Regions from separate parts of the Homo sapiens genome. Here region 1 is linked to region 2. The links come from fine-mapping of genetic effects on gene expression. A gene starts in region 2. The other region holds a variant in brackets. All regions are shown on one strand. Distances are from middle to middle. Region 1 overlaps ZNF460-AS1 (ZNF460 antisense RNA 1). Region 2 holds the start of ZNF805 (zinc finger protein 805).

Region 1 (2,912 bases), 29 kb after region 2:
CTCTGCTTCCCGGGTTCAAGCGATTCTCCTGCCTCAGCCTCTCGAGTGGCTGGGATTACAGGCATGTGCCACCACGCCCGGCTAATTTTTGTGTTTTTAGTAGAGATGGGGTTTTGCCATGATGGCCTGGCTGGTCTCAAACTCCTGACCTCAGGTGATCCACCCTCCTCGGCCTCCCAAAGTGCTAGGATTACAGGCGTGAGCCACCGCGCCTGGCCCCTTTACTTTCTTAATAAACTTGCTTTCATTATGGACTCACCCCGAATTCTTTTTTGTGGAAGATCCAAGAACCCTCTTGAGGTCTGGATTGGGACCCCTTTTCAGTAACAATGTTCTTAGAATAAATTATCTCATCAAATCGATACATGAAGGCCTATGGACTCAGGCTTAAAAATTACTTTTACCAGGCAAAATATTCCAGAAACTCAGAGATTGTCTTCCTGGAGCTGATCAAGGGCCATTTCTTTCTTTAGAATGTATAGCATCTGAGCAACTGAAGCCTGATGAGTTCACACTTTCGTGTATAACCAAAGCCCTGGCCCTAGCCTAGAATCTCTTACAGCAAAACAATCATATTTACTGAGCATCTACATTTAGTATAACATTTATATAAGATATATCAGCAGTATCATCATGAACATGCTGAGCCACTGGAGCAGCTCGTGTGGGGAATGGATAGATTTAGAAACAACAATCCATCCCATAAAGCCATTCATACTTTTCCATATATTTGTATCAATTCAATTACTCATTGTTCTCCTTGATCTACTGTTAATTGTACTTTGTGGTAAACCACCTCCCCTCTCACTACATTGGCTTAAGTTATCCTCCACCTTGCACATCTGGAAAGAGCCAGAGCTCCCTAACAGGACTTCTCCCTCTTGCCCCTCCCATATTCCAATTTCCATAGACTACCCAGAGTGATCCTTTTAAAACATAAATCAGTCCAGGCACAGTGGCTCACGCCTGTAATCCCAGCACTTTGGGAGGCTGAGGCGGGTGGATCACGAGGTCAGGAGATCGAGACCATCCTGGCTAACACGGTGAAACCCTGTCTCTACTAAAAATACAAAAAATTACCCGGGCATGGTGGCACATGCCTCTAATCCCAGCTACTCCAGAGGCTGAGGTGGGAGAATCGCTTGAACTCAGGAGGAGAAGGTTGCAGTGAGCCGAGATCACGCCATCACACTCCAGCCTGGCGACAGGGCAAGACTCCGTCTCAAAAAACAAACAAAAACATAAATCAGATAACATCACAGCTCTGCTCAAAACCCCATGATGGCTACCCATTTCACAGTGTATTAGCTATATTTTCTTATTTTCTGCATT[G/C]TTGATGCTATGGAATTTGGGACCTTGCCATTTAGAGTTAACTGATTCTTAGAGATTGCAAATGACTCACTCTGAACCATGCCTTTTATTTGCATACTAACAAATCCAGAGTACCCTAATGTGAATCATCTCCTCTGTCTGGCTCTTACACTACAGGAGACAATTTTTTTTTTTTTTTTTTTTTTTTGCTCTAATGACTCCAGGGCCAGGTACTAGGCAGACAGGGACAGCTCCTAGACCCCAAAGTCTACCAACTTTATTCAAACCAGCAAATCCTCTTCTGGTTACCCAGCCCTGCCTTTCTTTTCCTGTGGAAAACAATAAAGGATCTGGCCTCTGCTTTCTCCTCTGCTTCTGCTTCTTATACCACCCTGGTGCTTCTCACATAGCCCTGCAGGATGTGTTTTGCCTACTGTTTCTAAAACTCCGTGAGTTGAAAGTTCTTCCTTCCTGGCAATCATTTGCATGTCCGAGTTTCTTATCAGACCATACTGCAAAAAACCCCAGGTACATTTTTGAACACACAGGAACATATTACAACCTCTCTACGCTGGCATAAAAGACTACACAATTTGTTTCCATCTATCTCTCCAACTTCCATGCACATTCAGTTCCAGCCGCACTAGGCTTCTTGGTGTTCCACAAACACCCAGGATGCTCTGTCAGTTCCATTGTCCTGTGTGTTTTCTCTGAGTGATAACACTGTTTCCTGAGATCTCCACTTGATGAGTCTTTAATTCCTCCAAGTCCATGCTAAAACATCACTTTTTTTTTTTCTTTTGAGACGAAGTCTTGCTCTGTCGCCCAGGCTGGAGAGCAGTGGCGTGATCTCGGCTCACTGCAACCTCTGCCTCCCGGGTTCAAATGATTCTCCTGCCTCAGCCTCCCTAGTAGCTGGGACTACAGGGGCCCACCACCACGGCCAGCTAATTTTTTGTATTTTTAGTAGAGACGGGGTTTCACCATGTTAGCCAGGATGGTCTCGATCTCCCGACCTCATGATCTGCCTGCCTCAGCCTCCCAAAGTGCTGGGATTACAGGCATGAGCCACCACGCCCGGCCTAACTGTCCTATTAGACCTGTCCCAACCACTCTGTATTGCACAACTGGCTTTATCCCACTCTCACTGATTCTTAATCTGCTCTAGTTTGTCTTATCTCCGCAACACTCCTAACCTTCTATATTGTTTAGGAGTTTTGGATTATTATTATTTTGTGTGTGTGTGTGTGTGTGTGTGTGTGTGGTATGTATGTGTCTCCATTGTGACTTTTTGTTTTTTTGTTTAGAAACAGGGTTTCGCTAGATAGCCCAGGCTGGTCTCAAACTCCTGGTCTCAAGCGATCCTCCTGTTTCAGTGTCCTGAGTAGCTAGGACTACAGGAACAAACCCACCAGGCCCAGCTCTGTATCTCCACTGTTTAGAGCAGAGCCTATCACAAGATAGTCAAGTACTTGTTGAGTTAATTAATTAAAAGTTAGTAAATATATAAAAATATATTTTCAAATGGTTATGAATGTCCTAAAGAAAAATAGAGCAGAGTAATATTGGGGTGAGGGACTACTTTAAAATTTTTATTATTG
Region 2 (2,912 bases):
ACAGGAGTTCAAGACCAGCCTGGGCAGCATGGTGAAACTGACTACAAAAACTACAAAACAAAACAAAAAAACCCTCAATTTGCTGGGCGTGGTGGTGCGTGCCTGCAGTCCCAGCTACTTGGGTGGCTGAGGTGGGAGGATCACTTGAACCCTGGAGTTTGAGGCTGCAGTGAGCTGTGATCGCGCCACTGCACTATGGCCTGAGCAACAGAGCGAGACCCTGTCTCAAAAAATATATATATAAATATATATATAAATATATATGTGCATATATATACGTATATATACATATGTATATATACGTATATATGTATATATGTATATATAAATATATGTATATATAAGTAGAGAGAGAGAGAGAGAGAGAGACGGAGTCTCACTCTGTCGCCCAGGCTGGAGTGCAGTGGCGCGATCTCGGCTCACTGCAAGTTCCGCCTCCCGGGTTCACATCATTCTCCTGCCTCAGCCTCCCGAGTAGCTGGGACTACAGGCGCCAGCCACCACGCCCGGCTAATTTTTTGCATTTTTAGTAAAGACGGGGTTTCATCGTGTTAGCCAGGATGGTCTCGATCTCCTGATCTCGTGATCTACCCGCCTCGGCCTCCCAAAGTGCTGGGATTACAGGCGTGAGCCACCGCGCTCTATTTTTTTTCTTTTCTTTTTCTTTTTTTTTTTTTTTTGGTACCAATGAGGTCTCGCTCTGTCGCCCAGACTGTTCTCAAACTCCTGTCCTCAAGCGATCCTCCTGCCACAGACTTCTGGGACCACAGGTGTGCGCCAGCACACTCAGCTTATTTTAAAAAAATTTTTTTTTTTTTTGGTAGTCTCCCTATGTTGCTCAAGCTGGTCTTGAGCTCCTGGGCTCAAGCGATCCGCCCCCCTTGGCCTCCCAATGCGCTGGGATCCCAGGCCTGAGGCATCGCGCCGCCCGACGTCCCCCTTTGGTTACTCTGACTGCCCGCTGATCTGTATAAGAGGATCCGGAGGGGAAATAATGCAAGGTGGAAGTCAGAGTCCGGAGCCTGGTCCAGGGTCTCTGCACTGGCCCTGACCCTGGCAAATGTCCCTGACTCCTGGGGCTCGATTTCCTCCGGCCAAGAATGGACGGTCTCGCGCTTGGTCCCTGGCCTCCGAGTTGTGCCCCCAGGACAGAGGCAGGTCTGAGCCGGGCTGTAGGCCCGCTGCGACTTTTACACCGAGGCCTGCCGGCTCAGGATCTGTCCCCTTTGCAGGTGGTTTGTAGAGAAAAACTACATTAACTACAAGGCATTGCCAGGTGCGACGGCGGGCCCTGGGGCCAATGATGGTCCAGGACAGGGGCGTTTCCTGTGGGTTGCGAAGCTTGGGGCGGGACTTCCGGCATTTGGATGGGACGTAATTTGGGAGCGACGGTTCCGTCCACGCCGGCTCTAGGGAGGGGGCGGTGTTCCGTGGCCGCCTCCCTGGCGGCGCTGGGGAAATGAGCAGGTAGGAGGCCGACAGCGACCTCCGCGTCTCGGAGCGAACCGTGAGCCTCCCCGTAACGAGAGAGTTTGACTGTCAGCCAAGGTCACCGGGCCCGGCGCAGGGAAGGGGTGGGGCTCGGCTGAGCCCGCGAGACCCGCCCTGCTCGCCGCAGCCCCCGCCCCGCTAGGGCCACAGGGTCCCGGTATGGCGATGGCTTTGACGGACCCGGCGCAGGTGAGTGGACAAGGTTTCGGCCTTGCTGCTTTTCTGCTAGTTCGGGGAAGCCTCCTGGGCAGGCCGGAAGCCAAGACAGCCACAGGATTCCTCTTTGTAGTTTTGTTTGTTTACGAAACGTGGAGCAGGCTCGTCACTTAGTTTATCTCCTGTCGTGGTAGTACCTGAGAGACTGAATATTGAAGCGGACAGTAGGCAGACTATACATCGATTATAGGGCTGTGACGTACAATTTTTTTGTAGCAACCTGCCCAGGAAACCAGCCTCCTGTTCTGCAATAAACTACTCTGGAAGCCAGTCTGCCTTAAGTTAGTCTTGCAAGGAGCTAGATTACTCTCTGGTGACATTTCAGGAGGCTAAACGGTAACTCCTGGAACAGTAGGCCCCAAATAGGACTTGATTTGTAACTGACTGTTCTAATTTTTGCCTCCGCCTCCAAAAGAGGACCAAGCAGAGAAAGCCATACGTGCTCAGCCTAACCAATCACATACGATGCCCCACTTCTAGTTAGCCCTTCTGCAGCTTTCCACTGCTAAAGTGTCAGGCCTCTGAAAGCTGCTTAATAATTGCTTGAAGGATGGATGAAGTTCCACTCCAGGGACTCCCGTCACACACATCATCCGAACTCAGCCTTGGCCTGCAAGTCCCTACCCGGTCCACTATGGCTGACCACCTCTGTCCTTGTTTCCTTCCTTTCCTCCCTGGCTCAGCGCTTCAGACACAGGTCCACTATGGCTGACCACCTCTGTCCTTGTTTCCTTCCTTTCCTCCCTGGCTCAGCCCTTCAGACATATCAATCTGATCACGCAGAGTTCTTTCCTACCCCTCAGCCTTCACCTTTACAGTTCATTCAGCCTCAGACACTATCCTCAGATCTCTGCAAGACCCTTTCACATCTTGTTGGCTCTGCTCAAATGTCACTTCTTTAAAGCGGCCTTTCATGGCAGTTCAGACTAAAGTAGTCCCCTTCTCACCTGCCCTTGGTCTAGCGTTTTTGTATAGAGAATCTGGCAAAGTTTTAGACACCTACTGAGTTGAGGTCTTAAAGGATTTTGTGGGGACAAAGAGCATAAATAATAACACAAGAACTGTAACGGTTGGCCTTCATTGAGTCCTTGATGTGAACTGAGAAATGGGCATTATTTATCATCTCATTTAATCCTGATCTCCTTAAAGTGACATTCTATTATAAACACTGCTGTACACAAGAGGAGGTCAAGACTCCGACCTGT

What was found. PIP is the estimated chance that this variant, and not a neighbour inherited with it, causes the effect. A credible set is the group of variants that fine-mapping cannot tell apart.
Region 1: its variant is the best candidate, but not a certain one, in a credible set for the expression of ZNF805 in whole blood (TOPMed, PIP 0.85).

What each region holds. Positions count from the first base shown.
Region 1 is chr19:57,268,283-57,271,194 of GRCh38, forward strand. All of the region lies in intron 2 of ZNF460-AS1 (ZNF460 antisense RNA 1), which reads right to left. Among named protein-coding and RNA genes, the nearest start is that of ZNF460-AS1, 11 kb to the right of the region's middle. The variant G/C (reference allele first, on the strand shown) is at 1,333.
Region 2 is chr19:57,239,242-57,242,153 of GRCh38, forward strand. ZNF805 (zinc finger protein 805) reads left to right here and starts at 1,391. Exons shown (of 4, transcript NM_001023563.4): 1 at 1,391-1,680. The coding sequence starts at 1,651. RefSeq lists enhancers at 989-1,208, 1,229-1,498 and a silencer at 1,619-1,688.